Homo sapiens: one gene and its partners. The protein of the gene in region 1 purifies or fractionates together with the protein of each later gene. This does not show direct contact. Each region holds a gene or a part of one and is shown on either strand. Other genes may lie near its edges.

Region 1 (4,045 bases):
GGTTCTACCTTCCACCAGAGGCCACTGGTCCAGCAGCTTTGGGGGGAAGCCTGCAAACAGCAGGCAGTCACCTGACCAGGACTGGCACTGAGAATCAATGATCCAAGGGATACTCCTCTGGGATGGTGTGTGTCTGTGCCTCTGGGGAAGAACTTCCAGCCAGAAACTTAATCAGAACTTTTGGGTTTGATATCCTATCACCAGGAGTGGCTGAAGACAAGGTATTTCCTAGGATGATGATCTGTGTAAATAGCTGCTTCGTGCCTGTCTGCTTAACGAATGCTCTAAGGGAGCATTACTGGATTGGACTGGAGTGCTTGGGAAAATAATCGAGATGTGGCTCAGGAGTGAGAGAGTCTAGAGGGAATCAGAGAGTAGGCCTCTTAAGAAACAGTGCCTCCCTAGTCTCTCTTTGGGATATTTTCCCCAAATTTTGTTTTTGACTGAGGGGACATTCGGGGAATTTGCTATTTGTTACAGCTTACCATTTATGTTCTCTTAAGCGAAGAAGAAGGGGGTCACTTCAAAAGGGAGAGGGGAAATGGGGCAAGGAGAAAAAGGCTTTAATAAAGGCCAGCTGGGCTGATAAATGCTTTGGGGCTGAAAAATGGCTTGGGGGCCTAATCAGAGCTGGCTGGCCAAAGCTGGAGGATCCATGAGATAGAACCTTCCTCAGTGGCTCAGATCTTGCCAGCTGGTAGCCTCTTCTTTTATAAGATGTGGACCCCAGAGAGCCTCTGGAAAACTCAGGCTTCTTATCAGTTAAGGAATATCCTATAAGCGAAGGAAAACCCAGGAGTGAGCACCAACAGAACATGATGAGTAGGCGCATGAAACCACCCGAACACACCCAATGGCCTTTAAGGTAGTCAGGTGACATCTTGGCCTTTTTCATTGCCATCCACTCTACCTTAGGCCAAAGCAAACTCTACCCTCACAAAAGGTCACAGGACCACAGCCAGAACCATGAGAAAGCCAGGTGCTTACCGCAATCAGGGCTGAGTTCCTCTGGTCCCCTGGGGTTGAAGCGGGCGGCTGCTGCTCTCCGTTTATCCCACCACTGCCACCATTATTGCTACTGTTCAGCAGGTGCTGCTGGTGGTGATGGTGATAGTCTGGTGGGGGCGGTGGGGCTGCTGTTGCTGCTGCTTGGGAGGCCGCAGGAGGGGCAGCAGGGGGCGGTGGAGGGGCTGTAGTGGTGGCAGCAGTGGCGGTGGCCTTGGTGTGTTTGCCAGCTTTCCTTGCCCCCTGGCCATGCTGTACAAGGCTCAGGAGCTGCAAGGTGCTTTCTCTTTCCCGGTCTGAGCTCTCGGCCCTACCTCGTTCATATCGTCCTTCACAGCTCAGGTGGTGTTGGCGGCAGACAGCGATCCGAGCCCGGAGGCGCTCCACGATAGCACTGTGCACTCTCGGGGTGACTGAGCCCCCTCCAAGGAGCCCCGCCCCAGAGGCCCCCCCTAGCCCTCCTGCGGGGGCCTGCGGGGGCGCTGTGTCCCCCATCTTACCGGACACAATGATTGCTGCCTCTGGGATGGTGAGGTGGAAAGAGGCTACTGCTGGCTATTGCAGGCAAGTCTGTTTTTGACAATGTGAGCTCAGTGTTCAGGGCCACATGAATAGAGGTCTTCAGAGGTTGTGGGGGAGCCGTGGAGAAGTTGTGGGGGAGGGGAGTTAGTAAAAAGAGGGTGGGGAGAAAGAATAGAAACCAACTGGGGGGAGGATAAGTTGGAAACAAACCCTGATTAACTTACTCTAATTGCATTTGACAGCTCTGGAGAAGTTGGACAGAGTTGGTGGATTTTTTTTCCTCCACCAAGCTGACAAGAGCCACTAGGTACTTTGTAAACACACGATCTGGGGGTTAGATCAAGAATTCAGGGATTGTCCAGCAAGAGACAGAAACACACAGCAAAAGGTATTGAGAGAGGTATTAATAGAGAGGACTCCCCCTCACCTAGTTGTTTCCGACAATTCTTTATGGGGATGTTTCTGCAGAGAAACACATTTCTACCATGTCTATGTAACCAGCAGCCTTGACTTTTCCTCAGGTTAAATAAAAAACCAAAACAAAACAAAACAGTGCTGTTTCAGAAGATGTTTAAGTCACTGTTCAAAATGTGCAAAAATCAAGGGAGACTGTCTTTTGGCTTTTAATTTTTCCTCCCTTTCCTTTCGCTCCGGTGTTTTCTCCTCTTTGGGGTACTGTAGGATGTTGTCTTCTCCCAAAAGAGGGAGACAGCTTTTCAACTGTTAACAATGTCAGTAATTGGACTTTTGGACCATGCTTTTTTCTTCAGCTAATCCAATCACCGGTAAAATCCTCACTCCCTCTAAGGTTTCCTAGCCTTAAATGAAAAGCAATCTTAAGTCGCTAGCCACTGAGAGAGATCCTTCAACACATTTTTTTCTTTCCCGCTTACGTTTCTATTCCTCACCCCCGGCTCTATTCTAATACAGTATCAAGAGAGACAAACTCTTCCGAGAGTAATTTACAAACGATGGTCAAACTTACAAACTTCCAGCAAATTGCACCGAGTCATGTCCAGCCACTTTTCTGTCCACTTTTGTACATTCCATCCCCGGCCAGTGGATCTGAGGGTCTGGACTCGCAATAAGCAATCTGGTTCTATCTCCTGTATTTGCTCCGCTTTATAGATGGAAAAAAAAAGTAGCTTGTATTTTCCTTTCTCTTTCTCGTCTGTTGTTAGCCGCTTTGCTGACACTGGCTCGCGCCCGGAGTCACGGCGATACACAGGCTTTCATTGTGCTCCGATAGGAGAGGGAGAGAAAGAGAGAGAGTGAGACAGAGAAGGAGAAAGAGAGAGCCAGCAAGCTGCAGATGGGGGTGGGGGGGCGGGGAGAGGGCGGGAGAGCTCGTTCGAGGCTCCCTGGTGGAAGGCTGGTGCCACTGCGCGAGTGAGTAATCGCAGCCAGGCACCGGGGAAAGGGGAACGCAGAGGGCCTCCCAGTGGCTGAAGAGGTAAATCCCAAGCCCTGCGCATCTCAGCTGCCCTGGCTCAGCTCAGCATCAGACTCGGTTAAGCGGGGAAGGCTGGGGAAATTCCCCAACCTCTACACAACCATTTCACCAGCTCTAAATGTTTAAGAAATTCCGGGCCAGGAATGTGTTTTCCCTTTCAGCCCTACATTACGCCCCGCTGAGGATATCATTTTCATTTTTCAGTATATTGTAAATGACACCACTGAGCAACCTAGCACGAGCTGTGTGAGCACCGAGGAAATGTTCATTAATAGAATAAGGAAGATATGAATGTGTGTGTTGAGGGCGGAAGGGGTTGCGCGTGGAGAGGAGAGGTAATCACATTGTTAGCTCCTAAAGGGCAGGCAGGTGTAGCGTTTGTCTACCTGCCTGCCCATTTGTGTGTCTCTGGATAAGTGAGTCTGGGTGATCACAGGCAAATCAGTTGGGATAAATAAAATATTTTATGAGAATGATACAATTATCGATACCAGTTCTAGAAAAAAACGCTTTTTTTTTGGGAATGCATGATTGCCTATGAAAAACCAAATATAAGACCTGAAGTATCCTTAGCTACCTGGTGCACATATACAATGAGGAAAGTCAATGTGTAGCAGCTGAGTTTCAAAAAGTTTTTTTTTTTTTTTTCTTTTAATGGAGTCTTGTTATGTTGCCCAGGCTGGAGTTGAACTCCTGGGCTCAAGTGATCCTCCCACTTGAGCCTCCTGAGTAGCTGGAACTACAGGTACTCACCACTACTGCACCTGGCTCTGAGTTTCAAGAAGTTTAATAATAGAAACCAAATAGATCTCACACAGATCATTGTTCCCCCATTTTCAAGTGATCCAACCTTTAAAATATCCAATCCTGGCCAGGCACAGTGGCTCACGCCTGTAATCCCAGCACTTTGGGAGGCCAAGGCAGGTGTATTACCTGAGTTCAAGAGTTCAAGACCAGCCTGGCCAATATGGTGAAACCCCGTCTCTGCTAAAACTACAAAAATTAGCTGAGCATGGTGTCATACGCCTGTAATCCCAGCTACTCGGGAGGCTGAGACAGGATAAT
Region 2 (3,699 bases), on another chromosome or scaffold:
ATAACCCAGATAGTTGCCCAGCCCCCGCCACAGGCCACCAATGGACATGCCCACATTCCACGGCAGACCAACGTGGGCCAGAACACCTCCGTCTCAGCTGCCTATGGGCAGAACTCTCTGGGAAGCTCTGGCCTCTCCCAGCAGCACAATAAGGGGACCCTGAACCCTGGTTTAACAAAGCCACCGGTCCCAAGGGTGTCACCAGCCATGGGAGGCCAGAATTCCTCCTGGCAGCATCAGGGAATGCCGAACCTCAGTGGCCAGACCCCAGGGAACAGCAACGTGAGTCCCTTCACTGCAGCCTCCAGTTTCCACATGCAGCAGCAGGCCCACCTGAAAATGTCTAGCCCGCAATTCTCCCAGGCAGTGCCCAACAGGCCCATGGCTCCCATGAGCTCAGCAGCTGCCGTGGGGTCCTTGCTACCCCCAGTGAGTGCACAGCAGAGGACCAGCGCCCCTGCCCCAGCACCACCCCCAACAGCCCCTCAGCAGGGCTTGCCTGGCCTGAGCCCAGCAGGGCCTGAGCTGGGGGCCTTCAGCCAGAGCCCTGCCTCACAGATGGGCGGTCGGGCGGGGCTGCACTGCACCCAGGCCTACCCTGTGCGGACCGCGGGCCAGGAGCTGCCTTTTGCCTATAGCGGGCAGCCAGGTGGCAGTGGGCTCTCTAGTGTGGCTGGACACACCGATCTGATCGACTCCCTGCTGAAGAACAGGACTTCAGAGGAGTGGATGAGTGATTTGGACGACCTGTTAGGGTCTCAGTAATGGAAGGATTTGTAGTGTTTTTAGTGTTCATTCATCCTATATTTTTATTCTCAGATTCAAAGAAAGAGCAACTACTTTGGACCAAAAGCCCATGGCCTGGGGAGCTGGGCAGGTAGAGCCCAAGCTCCAGGTGAGGCCTGGCCCTGGGCAGGGTCTGTGGCTGCGCCCCTCAGGCCAGCAGTTGAGGTCCATCGGGCTGGCCCCAGCCCATCTGCTGGCATCAGTACCTGGTGTTGGGACAGCAGGATAGGGTTCTAAAGGTGGTTTTCTATCCAAACGACCAAAAAACCAACAGTAACACCAGTGAAACCCCACACTGTCGGGCTTATAAAAATCTGTGCCATCATGGTGATTTTATCCAAGACTGCTCCACTTACCCCAGTGCTGGGGACAAGTTTCTGTTGAAACTTTAGATAGCAGAATTATTTGCAATTTGTAGCATAGAAAAGATTTTTAAATTTTTTTACAAAAGGTTTTTAAACAGATTAGGGTAGGTGATGGTTTAAATCAATTAAGTGGCATTGGAAACCTAGGGTTTCCTTTTGATTAAGAGCCTTTTTTGTTTCTGCTCTTTGTCAGCTTTCAGGGGAGAAGGAGGCCACTGGAAAATTATTTCCCTAAGTGCAGGCTGTTGACTGCGTATGCCAAAAAGGGACAGGAGGCATGGGATAGCAGGTCTGGTGACACAGCTAGGGTCTTCCTAGCAGCTCCTCCTCCTCCCTCCCAAGGCCCCCAGGAATCCCTTCCTCCCATGTCCTGGCAGCAGGACCCCAGGCTACATATGGAAGGTAGAGATGTGGGGGTCCTGTATCCTGGAGTATTATGTCTCCCCACCTTCTGCAGTTTTCTCTGAACATGTATGTTGCCCATGGTGGGAGCGTGGTCACTGTGCAGTTGTGCACAGATGTCTTTCCTTTACCGTTGGCCTTTCTGTCTGCCTCTCCTTCCTCTCTGCAGCCCAAATGGAAAACAATTATTTACTCCATTGGAGGGAAAGGAAGAGTCTTAGAATTCCTAAGGGAACCTTAGCATAAAGGTTTTGGGGAAGGAGGCCGTAGGCCGGCCCGGAGGAAGCAATTCCACTTGGTTTGACAACTTCTGCCACTCCCATGTCAGATGACTTGCACTTCTTAAAGAGATTGCTTTATAACACTAAGACATCCTTTCTAAAGATTCAAGTGGACTTGACTAAGCTGAGGGTCCACGAAATAGAATATGACATGTGAGCTGTTTTTGGAAAACGAAGATGGAGAGAGCACTTCCCCGTAACGAAAGCAAAGTGGTAAGCACAGGGTGAGACCCTTTTACACAGAATGGTGGAGAGAAAAGAGAATGCTGAAAAGTGGCTCAGATGCAGAGTGTTCTGTGGAGAAACTGCAGCCCCACTTCTGTTTCCCTGGAGTCTCCCAATGGATCATTCAGGAGTGTCCTATGTGAGAATTGAGCCAAGGAAAATACTCATGCAACCAGCCTGAGTCGCGGTGAGGGGACGAGAGGTTGTACACACATTGGTAGTTATTTTGCACCAGCAGTGCCTTTCTCACTGGGGGTACTTGGACCCTCAGATCTTCTTTTCTAATAGCCATTTGCCACCCCAAGTGGTATGTCGGCCATTTCTCCTTAAAACACCTTCCCTACCTTTCCCATGTACTCAGTTTAGCTCTCAAAGAAGGGGTGAATCATAAAGCCAGTGAAAATTTCACCCTCTGAGGGAGTTCCCCAATCTGAAGGGGAAGAGGGTGACCTCAGCGGCTTTTCTCCCAAAAATCGGCTGAAGGCTGGTTGTGGATCCTTGTTCCTCTCCTGACCCCATCTGGCTGCTGCCCCGTCTCCCACCCCTGTCCCCGGGGCTCGCTGGCCCTGCACTCCGCCTTAGTCCTGGGGCCGGCGACACAGTGGGGGCTCCTCACTTGCTGCAGTGTCATAGCAATAAAATGTGATTCTTGGGGTCCCCCCAGGGAGCTGCCCATGGCTTTATTTATGAACCTGGTTTTCGGGAGTCAGGGGAGGAGATGACTTTGCTTCTGTGCACAGCCCCGTCTTCCAGGAGCCACAACTCAGAAGAAAAGGGTGCTCAGACTTTTGTTATACACATTTGCTTTGTGTAAATAAATGTTTACAATTTTATATGAAAGATGGAATAAGCGCTAGAGCTTCCAACTGTATATTTTTTACTTTTATAGATTTTAAAACTATGATCCTTTATATGTGTGTTTTGGGGGAGCTATGATAAGTTTTATGGCAAACGGTTGGTATTGTTAACTTTTTATTGTCATCAAAAGTTCATAAAAGTCCTATTAATCCCCATATTCTTCTACTGCCCTTAACTCTGGTATACACCAAAAAGAAATCTTTACTTTCCTTGTTTTATCATTATAAAAATAAAGTATTTTGCTAGTATGGAAACAACCTTTGTATTTGACGTCACCTGGGGTCTGCTGGCAGAAGTTTGGGGATTGGTTTTCTTTTGTAATTTAGCTGCTTGCTTTTCTTGGTTTTTTAATTTTTTCTTTTTAAAGAAATGCTTGTCGAGTCATAGATTTAGCTGCTTTCTTATTGCACATTGTTGGGTGGGAGCTGGTTTGGTTGAAGCCTCAGAGGAGCTTCTGTTATCTGCTGATAGATACTAAATTAGAGCTAGCATCACCCTGAGAAAGCAGGCTGGCCCCAGGACTCACGGGCGTCCATGCAGCTGATGGAGGGGAGCTGGACCGGACGACTGTGCTCTCTTAGCTCTAGCATCACCCTGAGAAAGCAGCCTGTCTCCGGGACTCACGGGCATCCATGCGGCTGATGGAGGGAGCTGGGCCGGACGACTGTGCTTCTCGTGCTTCATGTAGAACCCTTAGGTTTGCCCCTGAAGTCTGTCTGCTCCATGTACTATTTAGTTGCTTTTCAGCATAGAGCTTGGTTTTCCCTTTTTTTAATTGTAAG
Region 3 (4,254 bases), on another chromosome or scaffold:
CTCATTGGCTTGTAATCCCAGCACTTTGGGAGGCCAAGGCGGGCAGATCACCTGAGGTCAGGAGTTCGAGACCAGCCTGGCCAACATGGCGAAACCTAGTCTCTACTAAAAATACAAAAATTAGCCAGGCATGGTGGCATGCACCTGTAATCCCAGCAAGACTCCATCTCAAAAAAAAAAAAAAGGAGCAAGGATTCTGGATCCAAGCTGCCTGAATTTGAATTCCAGCTCCTTTCTTACTTGCTGTGTGACTTGGCGTAAGTTACTTAACCTCTCTGTTAAATGTGGTGATCATAATCATATCTACCTCATAAGATTGTTGTCAGGCTTCAGTGAGTGAAACACTTAAACAGAGCCCAGCAATCAGTATGTGCTGAATAAATGGTTGCTGTCTTTCTCCTCCTCATCATCTCTACCATTATCATTATCATTATCATTATCATCACCATCACCCAGGAATTTTTGGTCCTGCCTGTGGCTGCCATTAACCGGTGGAGACTCTCAGGCCCAGTTCCTCCCTGTAATGAGAAGTAGTGACCACCACTGGTGATTTTCAAACATTTTATGACCTTGAAATCCTTTGTTCCCCCCGCTCCCCAAAACAGCCAAAGTAAATAAAACAAAAAAGGTTTGAGTAAAGAAAGGAAAAACAGGGGTGTGGAGCCCACTCAGCAGCCCCCTCCCTTCCGAAGCCCCACTCCTGGAGCCAGAATCTCCAAGTGACCTTCCAGCTTCTGTGTTCTAGAATTTTATGTTTGTGTACGTGCAGTGAAGGCCTCAGTGTTTTACAGACTGGGCTTCATGGAATTTGCCCTCTTTTACAATCAGAAGATTGGAGACATAACCTTTCAAGGTCAGTTAGAAAATCCAGAGTCAGTATCTAGAACAAAGTCAAGATGCCAACTCTCACGGGTGGCATTTGCAGTCCTGGGCATGAGCCTCCTCCACCCTGCCCCCAGGGAGGCCATCCTCCCTGTACCCCAAATACTGAGAGGGCAGAACCAGCTGGCACAGTCTCTGCATGTCCCACAACCTAAGACGTGACAGGGCACCAGGCCTCTGGGACCTTTCAGGGACCAGCAACCCTAGGCATTATGTCTTATCCCTGGCTCCCGGCCCCCGGCAAACCTCCGTGATCCTCCCTGATGATGCAACACCCTGAGTCTCTTTCAAGACGTACAAGTCACTGCCTTAGGTCTGGCAGCTCCCAAATCACCTTGGAAAGACCTCTGCTCTGCAAACTCTGGTCTCCTACCTCCACGCCTGACTGTCCTGCCTCCTCGCCAAAGGCAAAAGTGCATCAAGGACTCAGAGAATTCTAGGGCATGAGCGTGGGACGGGATCTCGGAGACCATGGAAGACAATCCCTTCGCTCAACCAGCAGAGAAATAAGGCCCAGAGGTGGAGAGACTTGTCCAAGGTCACATGGCATATCTGTGGCCCAGGAGTTGATGTCAATTTGTGTGTGTGTGTTGGTCGGGGGAGCACTTTGTGCAATCCAACAGGGCCTGTTGCAGCCAGATGACAGGGACAGGAGAAGAAAGACATAAACACACTACGATGCCATTACAGTCAACAGAAAACTCAACTCTTCTTCCTCAAGTGTTTCTAGCACGGATCACCAACGGCTCAAATTTTAGATAACGGAGCTTCCAGGACCAGCCATGCTCCCGAGGTAGACGGAAGCTGGAAATGGGTAAAGCCCAAGGGAGACCCAAAGGACGACGGAGTGGAAGAGGAAAATTGGCTCTGGCTCACAAATAAGGAGAAATTAATCTGCAAATTAAAGTGCCAAAGACAATCCATTCACTTGTGGCAACCCCGGCGCCCACTTCCTTCCTCCCGTTGGCAGAAACGTTGATTCTTAACCTATTAGACTTCTGAGGGAACCAGCTCAGAATGGTGAGGGAAGGGGCCAAGAGAAGAGTGTATCACCTTTGGGATAGAAGGCAACGAGGAGATGAGCTTCTATGTACAAACCACAGCCACCCTCTATTTACAAACCTCAGAATTTTGTTTTCTTTGGTGTATTCTGGAATCCCTTGTGGTAGAAGGCAGGATATACTTGCAGACCACATCATTCAGACCTCTCAAACTAGAGACATACTCAACATCGAAGGTCACTAATGAGCCTCTATCTTCTGTTCTCTAATTGCAATGCTTTGAAAGGTCCCTAGCCTGGGCTTCATCAGTAATAGCTACTAACATTTCTAGGACTCAGTATATGCCAGGAACCATGCCAGGCCTCTTGCATGCATTATTTTATTTAATTCTCACATCTCCTCTAGGATATAGATATTAGGATATCCCCTCACTGTACAGGAGAGGAAATTGAGGCTCCGAGAGGTTGAGTACTTTCCCAAAGGTCACCCAGTGGCTCAGTGGCAGAGCCAAGTCTAGAACCAGATCTGTCTCCCCTTGAAGAGCATGTCTTAACCTTGACACTTTAAGAGCATTTAATGAGCTGTGACTCTGGAAATGTCCTCCCCTTCTCAGTCCCTTTTTGTCCTCATCCTGTAAGAGAGGTGGCTGTACAAAATCTCTCAGGACCCTTGTTAACTCTGACTGTCTATAATTCTAAAATTCTTCCTGGTGGACTCTGAGCATCCTAGGTTTGATTCTCATGCTTCCTCCAGCTGCTGACATCAGCCTGAAATGGCTCCTTTCCCTCTCCTGAGTCCAATCCCTGACACTTAAAAGCAAAGAAAAAGCAAGTGACCGTTCTAACACCCTTAACTAATGCAGCCAACTGACCTACCCCACGTGCAAACTTTCCACCTTGCAGCTGAACACCCTTGATCTTAGGGTGTGGGTGGCAGGGGCAATGGAATCTCTTCCTTTTACCTGATGAGGACTTCCTGCCCATGGCCTGGGATGTCAGCCTCCACCTTCCCCCAGACGTTCAGCACCAACTGCCATTCCCCGTCGCTGAGCCCCATGGCGCAGTCTGAAGAAGACAAAAAGAGCAAGTATGGGCTCACTGGGTGTCCTGGCCCCAACAGCTGGGGTTTGAGGCTGCCTGGTCCCAAGGGCGTTTTTATACCTTCTGGGATGCTTGACAAAGATCGCTCAATGGCTCGCTGTCCCCCTCCCCTGCCCTCCTTCACTTTCTCTCTCTCATCCAGGGAGGGTCTAATCTTTTCCTTTCTCTAGCCCTCACATGGGAAGCTATTTTAGGGCAGGTGCCATTGTGGCGAGGCAGGACAGCTCAGGCCACAGGGGGTGGGGTGGTTGTGCGTGTGGAAAGAAGGGGAGGAGGTTGGGCACTGTCTGGACTCTCATAGCCGACAGAAAGGGCACCACAGAAGCCGACGCCAGCAGCCTGAAACCCAACGCTCCCTGCGGTCAGCCCTCCCAAGAGGACCTGTCATGTTTCTAAGCTTGGCCACCAGGTGCCCCGGCTGGCCCCAGGACAGTCCTGGCCATTCGCAACCTCTCACGCACCTTCTGCCCCTTTGCCAGAGACCCCTCACCCAGCCAGAAGTGACAGAAAGGAACCGGATGGTTTTGTGCTTATAGCCAGGTGGTCCCAGGCAAGTCCACAATCTCTTAGAGAACTCCTGTTTTCATGACCCTGCTCAAAGGTTTCCCTCTGAAAAGTTTTTCTTGACATACTCCTTTGAGACACCACTAATTGCTTCCTCCTTTCCTTTCTTTGTGTAAGTTCCTGTTGCATTGCTTCCCAAAGGGCATCCTATTTCCTGGTTTTCATGCCATCTTCTCCATTAGGATAATAGCAGCCAGCACTCACAAGAGACTTTGCTGGGTGCCAGGCCCTGTCCCAAACACTTGGCATTTGGTAACTCATTTAATCCCCGCAAGACCTCCCAATGTGATAGGTACTGACATTATCCCTATTTAATTGAGAGAAAGTAGGGAAACATCACTGATGTACAACTAGTCGCTGGCAGAGTTGGGATTTGAACTCAGGAAGCCACGCCCCTTTCTTTGCAGTTTTCAGGAGGGCAGGAGCTCTGTTTTATTAACCCACGTATCTCTTGGGCCTCACATGGTGCTTTGTGCCAAGTTTGAACTGAATAAATGTTTATTGAGTAAATGGGTGGATGGTTTTGCAAAGAAAGAGAGTGGAGGATGATTAGCCTTATCTTACATCCATGCATCCTCCTTCAATCCATTCAGGTATTCAACCATCTATCCATTTATCCACTTGTCCATCCAGTTACTCATCCATCCATCCATCTGTCATCCCTTAATTCATCCATCCATCATCTCTTTGTCTATCCATGCATTCAC

The links.
Region 2: the proteins of MAML2 (region 1) and MAML1 purify together in Homo sapiens (affinity purification with western blotting, with the first as the bait; one study listed by BioGRID). This does not show direct contact.
Region 3: the proteins of MAML2 (region 1) and MB purify together in Homo sapiens (affinity purification with mass spectrometry; one large-scale study listed by BioGRID and IntAct). This does not show direct contact.

Annotation. Positions count from the first base shown.
Region 1 is NC_000011.10:96,340,396-96,344,440, forward strand, and holds the start of MAML2 (mastermind-like protein 2), read right to left. Parts: upstream 2,801-4,045; 5' UTR 1,501-2,800; coding exon 988-1,500; intron 1-987. UniProt on the Homo sapiens protein: Acts as a transcriptional coactivator for NOTCH proteins. Has been shown to amplify NOTCH-induced transcription of HES1. Potentiates activation by NOTCH3 and NOTCH4 more efficiently than MAML1 or MAML3.
Region 2 is NC_000005.10:179,774,113-179,777,811, forward strand, and holds the end of MAML1 (mastermind-like protein 1), read left to right. Parts: coding exon 1-765; 3' UTR 766-3,171; downstream 3,172-3,699. UniProt on the Homo sapiens protein: Acts as a transcriptional coactivator for NOTCH proteins. Has been shown to amplify NOTCH-induced transcription of HES1. Enhances phosphorylation and proteolytic turnover of the NOTCH intracellular domain in the nucleus through interaction with CDK8.
Region 3 is NC_000022.11:35,614,319-35,618,572, forward strand, and holds the start of MB (myoglobin), read right to left. Parts: upstream 3,012-4,254; 5' UTR 2,940-3,011; coding exon 2,845-2,939; intron 1-2,844. UniProt on the Homo sapiens protein: Monomeric heme protein which primary function is to store oxygen and facilitate its diffusion within muscle tissues.